Regions from separate parts of the Homo sapiens genome. Here region 2 is linked to region 1. Evidence: fine-mapped expression QTL. Tissue or cell type: whole blood. Region 1 holds a variant in brackets; the other region holds the start of a gene. All regions are shown on one strand. Distances are between the middles of the regions.

Region 1 (5,145 bases):
CGGTTCACGCCATTCTCCTGCCTCAGCCTCCCGAGTAGCTGGGACTACAGGCGCCCGCCACCACGCCCGGCTAATTTTTTGTATTTTTTTAAGTAGAGACGGGGTTTCACTATGTTAGCCAGGATGGTCTCAATCTCCTGACCTCGTGATCCACCTGCCTCGGCCTCCCAAAGTGCTGGGATTACAGACGTGAGCCACCGCGCCCGGCCCCCTATTTCTTATTCATTTGAAAATTCTGACTTTGGGAGTGGTGCGTATGCCTCCTAGGGAATTCTCTGAGCTGCACCATCACACCCAAGCCGTCAGCCCCTACCCAGGGCCCTGATGCTTCTTTCTATCTCCTTCACCTGTCAGGGATCCATCCTCACCTGTCTTTTCTACTTGTTATTGAACTCTGCTGCTGTCACCTCTTGCTTGATGCCAATTTATCTGCTGAAATCTAAACATAAGCCTGATCCCTGCATAGACCTTTGGGAGGCCGAGATGGTCGGATCACCTTAGGTCAAGAGTTCCAGACCAGCCTGGCCAACATGGTGAAACCCCGTCTCCACAAAAAACACACACAAAAAATAAAAATAAAAAAAAAATTAGCTGGGTATGGTGGCACACGCCTGTAGTCCCAGCTACTCGGGGAGGCTGAGGCAGGAGAATCACTTGAACCCAGGAGGCGGAGGTTGCAGTGAGCCAAGATCGCGCCACTGCACTCCAGCCTGGGCGACAGAGGGAGACTCCATCTCAAAAAACAAAAAACAAACAAACAAAAGACCTGTCAATTACTCTTCCCAATATAAAGGATACAAGCAAGAGCCTTAACCTGGCCTTCAGAAGCCCCTACAATCTGGTCTCTATTCTAACTACACCCTTGGAAAACCAAGCAACCTGCGGTTCCACCATCACGCAGGATCTCTCATGCCCAACCAATCTCTACCCCCTCCCCGAGGTGCTCTGGAGGATGGGGGTATCTCAGGGAAGGTGGTATCTCACCACCATCCGCATCCTCCCAGGTGCAGTAGCGGACTCAAAAGCTGAAGGAAGCCTCTACTCACACAGGACCAGGCCGTCGGAAGCCTGGAGGCCATAGTTTCCTCCTTCTCAATGTGTCTCTGGTGGAAGTGGGCAGAGTCCTGAGGAAACCGAAGTTGGGAGGGGAGGGAGAGGCTTAAGGTGTCCGCTGGGGAGCTACCGCAGCCTCCGCCCAGGAACGGCTCCCTCAGCGGGAAATGACAAGTCCACCCAAACTGGAAAACGCCCAGAGTGAGTCATAGGACTCCCACAGGACTGGATAGGACCAGTTTTCCCCTCCCCGAGAGGACACCGAGCCTCCTCTGTCCCGCGCATCGGAGGGGATCGCCTCCCTGGCCCAGACCCCACGCTTCCGGAGGCGATCTGTTCTCTCCACCGCGGCGCCCCGAAAGCACTGTCTCCCCTCGGGGTTCCGGGTCACCGACCCCATCCCACAGAGCGGCGGGAGGACTGCAGGCACGGCCGGCTCAGGGTACCCGAGCTCGGCGGAAAATGCAGAGGCCGCGCTCGCCCCCAACTAACGGTTCTGGACCCGCCCAGCGCAGCCCCCGACGGACGCAGGTTTCGCGCGGCACTCACCCGGCGCGCGCCGCACAATGGCGCCCGTCGGCCGGCGGCGAAGTGCGTCAGCCCGCCGTCCCGAACTACAACTCCCAGACGCCCCCGCGGCGCGCCAGCTTGCCTCACCCAGCGGCGGCCATCTTGACTGGCCGGTTAGGGGCGGCAGGCGAAGCCGGGGACAGCAGGAGGAGGATACTCGTCGATGTCCCTCGGCGGTCCAGCTAGGCAAGGGGAGGCCTCTGGTGAGGGACGCTAGGCCGCAGGGCCCCACACTAATGTGGGCGGCGACCCGAGCTGGGAGAGAGTCGTGCCCTGCCACGAAGGCGACCACTCTTGGGGCAGAGCAGAAGCTGGAGAAAGGAAAGGCGCTGGACAGGGGTCAGGCCGGAAGTGCTGGAATGGGTGATGCTTGGTTGGGTGGCGGTGGGGGCGGGATTAATTATGACGTCCCTTGGGAAGAGGAAGGGCGGGTAGGGCCGGAAGTGCAGGGGGCGGGCCTAACTGGCCGTCCATCTGGGTGGAGGGGCGGGGACAGGGAGGGCGGGGAGAATGTAGGAGGCGGGGCTAGAGTCCACGCAACTTTTGGGGAAGGAGGGGGACTGGAAGACGGAAGTCGCGGGGGGAGTGGGGAGAGGTACTGAAGTTCCACCAGTTTCAAAGTCGAGAAAGAAGGGGAGGACTGGGAGAGCCGGAAGTGTGCAGGAGTTGGGACTGACGGCACTTATGTTTCTGGGAGATGGGTCCTGCCTGAAAGTGAGGGTGGACAGGGCCAAGTGTCCACTCAAGGTCAGGGAGGGGAGGGAAACTCGGAGGACCGGAAGTGTGATGGGAACGTGGCCAAACGTCCACCCTAGTTCTGGGGATTAGAGGAAGGGAGTAGGAAGGTCAGGGGTGTGCAAGGGGAAGGAGGGAAGACTAGGTGGACCACAAGTGTGATGGGAATGAGGCCAAACGTCT[A/G]CCCTAGTTCTGGAGAGATGATCAGGGCTAACTGTACCCCAGGCATTGGGGAGGAGGAGCAGGATCCTCTGCCTAGTGTCCCCCTGTGGTCCAGTTTGCTCCTGGAAGCTGAGGTGCTCATGTCTAGGGAGAGGAAACCTAAGTCTGTAGCTGTCCAGGACCTGGTGTGTGCCACCCATCCTTGGGCCCAGGGTGCTCTCATCTTCCTTGGGAGCTCAGGACAAGGAGGTATTCTCTTGGCTTCCTCAAGGACCGACATCTGGTGTTTTCTTATCTTCCTTAGGTCCCAGGTCCCAGTATGGTCTTGTCTTCTTGGGACCTGAGGGCCCTAATGATCTCTCTCAGTGCTCAGGACCCTGTGTCCTCTTTCTTGATATTTCCTGGCAGGTCTCAGCAGCCCTCTGCCTCCCTCTGGTGGTCGTGTACACTGCCTGCTAAACTTGTTCCACGGGTTGTTGGTTTTTTTGGTCACTGTGGAGGATCCAACCTCAGGCTACACATTGTTTAATTGTTGCTGTTAGTGTGTTGATTTTGGCATAGGAGTATTTACTCAGAGACTGTGCAGATATCTTATAGTCTAATAATATTTCATTGGATTTTTCGTGTCTATTATAGATACAACACCATCCCCAATTAATAAGTAATTTGATATCTTCTTTTTCCATATTTCAACTTTAAAAAATTAACATTGTATAGTCCTAGCTAGTATGACAGAGCTATGTTAAGTAGTCATGTTTACTAATAGTCTTGTTTTGTTCTGGATTTGAATAGGATACGTCTAGCCCTTCATAATCACAAGGAAGCAAACCCCCTTGGAAATTCTTTTTTTTCTTTCTTTTTTTTTTTCTTGAGACAGGGTCTTGCTCTGTCACCCCGACTGGAATGCATTGGTGCGATCACAGCTTACTGCAGCCTCCACCTCCTGGGCCCAAGTGATCCGCCCACCTTAGCCTCTCAAATAGCTGGGACAGGTGCACACCACCACACCTGGCTTTTTTTTTTTTGGAGACAGAGTCTTGCTCTGTCGCCCAGGCTGGAGTGAGGTGGCACAATCTCGGCTCACTGCAACCTCTGCTTCCTGGGTTCAAGCGATTTTCCTGCCTCAGCTGCCCAAGTAGCTTGGACTACAGGTGTGTGCCACCATGCCTGGCTAATTTTTGTATTTGTAGTAGAGACGGGGTTTCTCCATGTTAGCCAGCCTGGTCTCGAACTCCTGACCTCAGGCAGTCTGCCCACCTCAGCCTCCCAAAGTGCTGAGATTATAGGCATGAGCCACCCCGCCTGGCCTCTTTTGTACTTTTTTGTAGAGACAGAAACCTCACTATGTTGCCCAGGCAGGTGGAAATTCTTCTAATGATTTCTTTCTATTTATGTGGTATAGGATAAAACCTGATTTTTGATTAAAAGAATTTGTTTTTGAGACAGGGTCTTGTTCTGTTGCCCAGGCTGGAGAGCAGTGCTGCAGTCATGGCTTACTGCTGGCCCAACCTCCTGGGCTCAAGTGTTCCTCCCATCTCAGCTTTCCAAGTAGCTAGGACTGACTACTGGTGTGCATCACCACACCTGGCTAATTTTTAATAAATATTTGTGTAGAGATGAGGTCTCAGTGTGTTGTCAGGGCTGGTCTTGAACTCCTGGACTCAAGCAATCCTCCCGCCTTGGCCTCCCAAAGTGCTGGGATTGCAGGCGTGAGCCACCATGCCTGACCAAAGATGTTTTGTTTTTTTTTTTTTGTTTTGAGACAGAGTCTCGCTCTTTCGCTCAGGCTGGAGTGCAATGGCGTGATTTCGGCTCAACTGCAACCTCTGCCTCCCGGGTTCAAGTGATTCTCCCTGCCTCAGCCTCCTGAGTAGCCGGGCGTGCCACCATGCCCGGCTAATTTTTGTATTTTTAGTAGAGATGGGGATTTGCCATGTTGGCCAGGCTGGTCTCGAACTCCTGACCTCAGAGGATCCGCCCACCTCGGCCCCGCAAAGTGCTGGGATTACAGGCTTGAGCCACTGTGCCCAACCTAAAGATGGTTTTATATAAGCATATTATTGAAGATTGATTTATGAGAGCCATTTTAATTCAACTTTTAATAACTGCATACTCTTTTCCTGTTTAGCAAATTAAATATGCTGTTTATTGTAATTTGTAAAATAAAAATGACTTCTGAAGAAATGTTAACTATTAAACATGTAAAATGTTGAAAAAATTTATTCATCGTTGTTGGATTTAGACAGTGCCTCGATTGCTTGTTCAAAACCTTCTGAGCCAGATGTATTTTGGAATTCATGATCATTTGGATTTTAGTAGGATGGTAATGTATTTACACCATACAGTGTGTAAATCCCTAAGAGGTGTGGGGTAGCACCTGCCATCAAACACATGAGTATATCTGTAGCAAAATACAAGAAGATTTACACTAGGTGGAAGAGAGACAAAATATAAATAGCCTTGTTCATATAAATTTTGCAGACTCATAACAGGGAGAAATTTTCTGTTAGAAAATATCTGGAATTTTGAATTACATAGAAGGCATTATGGATCATAAGTGAAAATGTGTGTTGTAGAAATAGTAGTTATTTCATTCAATTGCAAAGTTTAATTTTTACTTTTTCT
Region 2 (5,145 bases), 84 kb after region 1:
GAGATCGCGCCACTGCGCTCCAGCCTGGGCAACTGAGCAAGACTCTGTCTCAAAAAAAAAAAAAAAAAAAAAAAAAGTGGGAGGAATAACTGCACCTGATGTTGTTACTCTGTAGCCGTGGTAACCCAATGTGGTATTGGCAGACACATAGATCAGTGGAACGGAATCGAGAACCCGGAAATAGACCTGCAAAGATATTCCTGACTGATTTTTTAAGGAGCAAAAGCTATTCAATGCAGGAAAGATAGCCTTTTCCAGATGGTGCAAGAACAATTGGCCATCTGTGGTGTAATAAAACCTACATTTCATCTTTTTTCTTTTTTTTTTTAGATGGAGTTTTGCTCTTTTGCCCAGGCTGGAGTGCAGTGGTGCGATCTCAACTCACTGCAGCCCCTGCCTTCCAGTTTCAAGCTGCCTCAGCCTCTCGAGCAGCTGCAATTACAGGCACCTGCCACCATGCCTGGCTAATTTTTGTATTTTTAGTAGAGCCAGGGTTTCACCATGTTGACCTCGTGATCCGCCCGCTGGCCTCCTAGAGTGCTGGGATTACAGGCATGAGCCACCGCGCCTGGCCCTTACATTTGATCTTTATCCCTGGTTCCTGGCACAGAGCTAAAAGCCTTGGAATTTTGTGAATAATAGGAATAGGGTTTGCAATTCATAAGGAGCCCGTTTCGACCACACCTGAGTTTATGCTAATGAGGTGACTCCAGTGGGACCCATAGATATCTTCAGGATGGGGATAGTCACCTTAAAGAAGGTATGGACCCTCTCTCTGCCCCACGATTGAGAGAGCTGGGTTGGTGAACACATCTGAGTGCTGGGAGGATGGCTCACCCAGACGGTACATGGATGCACTGCACCTTCAGTGCCCCTGACCAGACCTTAGCTGTGCATCTCTTCCATTTGGCAGTTCCTGAGTTATATCCATTAAAATAAACTGGAAAGACTGGGCATGGTGGCTCATGCCTGTAATCCCAGCACTTTGGGAGGCCATGGTGGGAGGATTGCTTGAGCCCGGGGGTCTGAGACCAGCCTTAGCATTATAGTGAGACCCCATCTCTTAAAAAAAAAAATTAGCTGGGTATGGTAGCGCACACCTGTAGTTCCAGCTACTCGGGAGGCTGAGGTGAGGATCACTTGAGCCTGGAAGGTCAAGGCTGCAGTGATTCATGATGGCACCACTGCACTCTAGCCTCAGTGACAGAGTGAGACCTTGTCTCAAAAAAAAAAAAAACATAGCTTTCAAAACTGAGCAATTTTTTTAAAAATTAGAAAATGGGCAAAAGATACGAACAGATACTTTAATGAAGAGGGTATACAAATGCCAAAAAAATCATTAAAGTGTGCTCAAACTTGTTAGCAATTAAGGGAAATGCAAATTGAAACCACAATGATATATCAGTACATACCTATCAGAATGGCCAAAATAAAAAATAGCAAAACACAAATGCTGATAAAAATGTGAAGTGGATTCACACATTCATTGGTGGTGGGAGTGTAAAATGGTCCAGCTACTCTGCATGAGAGTGTGGCAGCTTCTTACAACACTAATAAGCACGTGTTCATTGTGTGACCTAGAAACTGCACTCTTGGGCTTTTATCCCAGAAAAGTGAAAACTTACGTTCACAGAAAAATCTGTACACGAATGTTCATAGCAGCTTTATTTTTAATAGCAAAATACTTAAAACGATCCTAATATCTCTCAGTGGGAGAAGGTTTAAACTGCTATATACCATAGAATACTACTTCTCAATAAAATGGAATGAACTGTTGATACATACTACTTCAATGCCTCTCAAAGGAATTATGTTCAGTGAAAAAGCCAATCTGAAGAGGCCACATACTGTATGATCCCACTTATATGACACTGTGAAGGCAAAATTGTAGCAGTGGACTACTTAGATTAGCTGTTCCTGGGGTTATGGGTGGGGAGGGAGTGACTACCAAGAGGCAGCAGGAGGATTTTTGGGCAGTGGAGCTATTCTTTGTCCCGAGTTTGTTGGTGGATATGAGTTAAAATTCATAAAACTGAATACCAAAATGTGTGGTGTATGTAAATTTAAAATATATAAACTGTTCAGATATACATTTTAAAAATCAGTTCACACAAAAACGACCAAAATGGCATCCTCATAAGCGCCTCTATCTGGAAAACTGAAATGGGAAGCAGCTCCTGGCCCTATCCTGCCTTCCAGGGGGGCTACATTTATATGGGGCTTTGCCAAAGCCCTCACCCCAGCTGCCACTCACATTTCCCTCATTTCAGCAGCTCCTGAATCCCTGGGGTGGGTAATCTTTGAGTTCTATCCACTCCTTGAAACTGTAGAACCCATTTTAGCGCATCAGTGTCTCTGGGTCTCCACCTCTTGTCTCCCCAGTACTGGGTCTGCTGGTCCCTGTCTCTGTATCTCTGTCCAGATCTGTCTCAGCCTCGAGTGCTCCTTTTCTCTGGGTCTCTCTCTTTTCCTGAGCCTGAGCTGGTCTCTTTCTTTTCTTGAGCCCATGCTGGTCTTTCCCTTTCTTGATCCTGGGCTGGTCTCCCTCCTTTCTTAACCGTGAGCTGGTCTCTCCCTTTCCGTGTCCGACTCTGTACATCTCTGTTTCGGGGACCCCAGGGCGTCTTGGTCTGCCCCCGAGCGTCTGTGGGCCTTCATGCTTCTCTCCCTCCCGGTCTGCGCGTCTTTTTGTCTTTGTTTCTCCGTTTCTCACCGTCTTTGTTTCTCCGGGTCTCTGGCTGTCAGGGGTCTATTATTTACCCGCTTGTTTACTTCGTTGCCATGGTGCCCAAAATGACGCAGGCGCCGGAGTGGGCGGGACGCCGGGAGGCCACACTCGCGTCTGATTGGCCATGCGCACTGTCACCTGTCACGGCTCCCTTGCTCGCCCCGGTGCGCGGCACAGCCTCGCGGCATTGTGGGAGTCGTAGTCCGCGGTGAGGCCCAGTGCGCAGGCGCAGTTTGCCGGCCGCCATCGCGCACTGGGGCTCCGGGCGGCTGGGACCGGCCTGGGGTAGCTGCGCAGCAGGTGGGTCGGTCCCGGGGATGCAGCGCGGGGGTCAGAGAGCGACCCCAACAGGGTAGACGGTGAGGACGCCTCAGTGGGCAGCGTTAGGGAAAGGGGCCAGGGTGTTCCCGGGGTTGGGGTGCGAGCCCCCGCTGTGCGTCCAGGAGGCCGAGGGTCTGGCATCCCTTCGCGTGGAGTGCGGGGCAGGGGCCGGGTCCCCCCGGAGGTGGCTGAGATCCAGATCGGTGAGGGGCCCTGCAGGCAGGTAGGGAACTAGTGCAACCCCCACCCCGTGTAGGCTCGTGGAGGGGAGGCGCTTAGGGCACCCTGTGGGTGGGAGAACAGGAAGGGGCGGCTCCTGATGGGGGAGAGATGAGGGAGGGGGAGGCTCCTGATGGGGGAGAAAGGGGGGAGGGGAAGGCTCCTGAGGGGGGCGAAAAGGGGGAGGGGGAGGCTCCTGAGTGGGGAAGAGAAGGGAGGGGGAGGCTCCTGAAGGGAAGAGGAGGGGAGGAAGTGGGGGCTGAGGGTGTGAGGATGTGAGGGTGTCCGTGGTGGGGGGACGCTGGGCAGGCTGTGGCCCCAGGGGCTGGAGCAGGGAAGGGATGGAGGGTGCGGGGACCAAAGGGGTGCCTAGAATGGGCATTGTCTCTGCTGCCCCCACCCTTGGAATATCTCGCCTCTCCCCAGTCACCTGGGGGTGGGTTCTGTTTGAGTTAGGTGTCTGCGCCCACCCCGGAGACCTCTCTCGTGGAAGAGGCAAGAGTGGGTGTACTGGCTTCGGTCCTGACCCAGGGGGTTGGGGTGGGGGCCTGACTCACCCTCCCATCACTCCTTCCCCATTTCCTTTCTCTCACCCTCCTGGGCTCCTTCCTTTTCCCAATCCCCCTCTACCCCCGTCCAGACTATCTGGCTTTCCCTGCTCTTGCTCCTTCCTCTCCTGTCTTCTCTCTCCCTGCTACCTTCCCTCCCCGCTTCCCCCATTTCTGTCTGCCCTCCTTCCACTTTCCCATATATTCGCCTGTGTCCTTGCTGACTCCTGGGCGAGGCTGAGTGGCACAGTCACTTGGTTCCATGTCACCTCCTCGGTTCCATTTCACTTCCCCCATCCCATCATGTCCTGCGGATGGTTTCCTGCCCTGGAGTCAGAGCGGGACCACGTGTCGCATCGAGTTGCTGTTTTCTGTGCATGATGCTTGAATCTGTGACTTCCTGGGTATTTCTGGCCTCGGGTTTTCGGGGAGCCTAGGCCAGTTGCGCAGGACATCTCTCTGGTTCTGTCTGTCCTGGCGAGTGGATCAGGGACCACAAAAGGCAGCTGAGATGTGAACGACGACCCTTACTCCATGTTTTTTCATTCTTTTAAAAGCACTTTTACCCCTTTTTATAATGAGTAAGTGATCTGTGGATGAAGCCAGGGCAGACCCTGGGAATATCCGGCGACCCATCAACAACCACATCCCATGCATTGAGCTTCCCTGGCTGATCCTCAGGCCTGTGGCTGTGGGGTGGTTTGCTAGACCCTGCCGATGAGTGTGGTGGGATGGAGAGCTGCGATGAATATTCCTCAGGTGGCCAGGGCTGGGCCCACGGAGGGCCAAACCAGGCTTGAGCTCTGCTCAGCCCAGGATGAAGGGGATTTGCTGCAGGACTCTGGAGACCCACCAGGCTTGGGACCCCTCAGCTCAGCCACCCCTCACCCACCGTGGAGCTCTCTGCCTCAGCTTCTGTATTCCAGGCCTCTGGGTGCAGCAAAGCCTACAGGACTGGCTCAAGACTTGTGCAGATTGCTTCATTTGCTGAGGCTGGGGGGCTGGGCTCCAGGAAAATCCCATCTGAGGCAAATCCTGGACAGTCCCAAGATTAGGGGAGGGAGGTTTGCCCAGTGACCAAGCCAGACTCCAACGAGGTGTGGCCTCATTCAAGCAGGCTGTGGCAGGAAAGGGTCCCAGTGGTATCTCTATTTTGTTTGTTTGTGAGACACGGGCTCATTCTGTCGCCCAGGCTGGAGTGCAGTGGCCAATCACAGCCTCCAACTCCTGGGCTCAAGCAGTCCTCCTGCTTAAGACTCCCCAGGCTCTGAGATTATAGATGTACGCTGCCGCACCTGCCCCGGTGAGATCTCTGAGAGTCCTCTTGAC

Evidence for each region. PIP is the estimated chance that this variant, and not a neighbour inherited with it, causes the effect.
Region 2: it holds the start of ZSCAN18, and the variant in region 1 is fine-mapped to the expression of ZSCAN18 in whole blood (INTERVAL, PIP above 0.99). The same link has a PIP of 0.9 or more in blood mononuclear cells.

The regions. Positions count from the first base shown.
Region 1 is chr19:58,179,900-58,185,044 of GRCh38, reverse strand. It overlaps ZNF274 (zinc finger protein 274), which reads right to left and starts at 1,984. Exons shown (of 8, transcript NM_133502.3): 1 at 1,603-1,984; 2 at 1,047-1,124. The coding sequence starts at 1,079. RefSeq lists enhancers at 1,132-1,321, 948-1,659, 1,572-1,991, 1,660-2,373. The variant A/G (reference allele first, on the strand shown) is at 2,542.
Region 2 is chr19:58,096,057-58,101,201 of GRCh38, reverse strand. It overlaps ZSCAN18 (zinc finger and SCAN domain containing 18), which reads left to right and starts at 2,971. Exons shown (of 7, transcript NM_001145543.2): 1 at 2,971-3,028.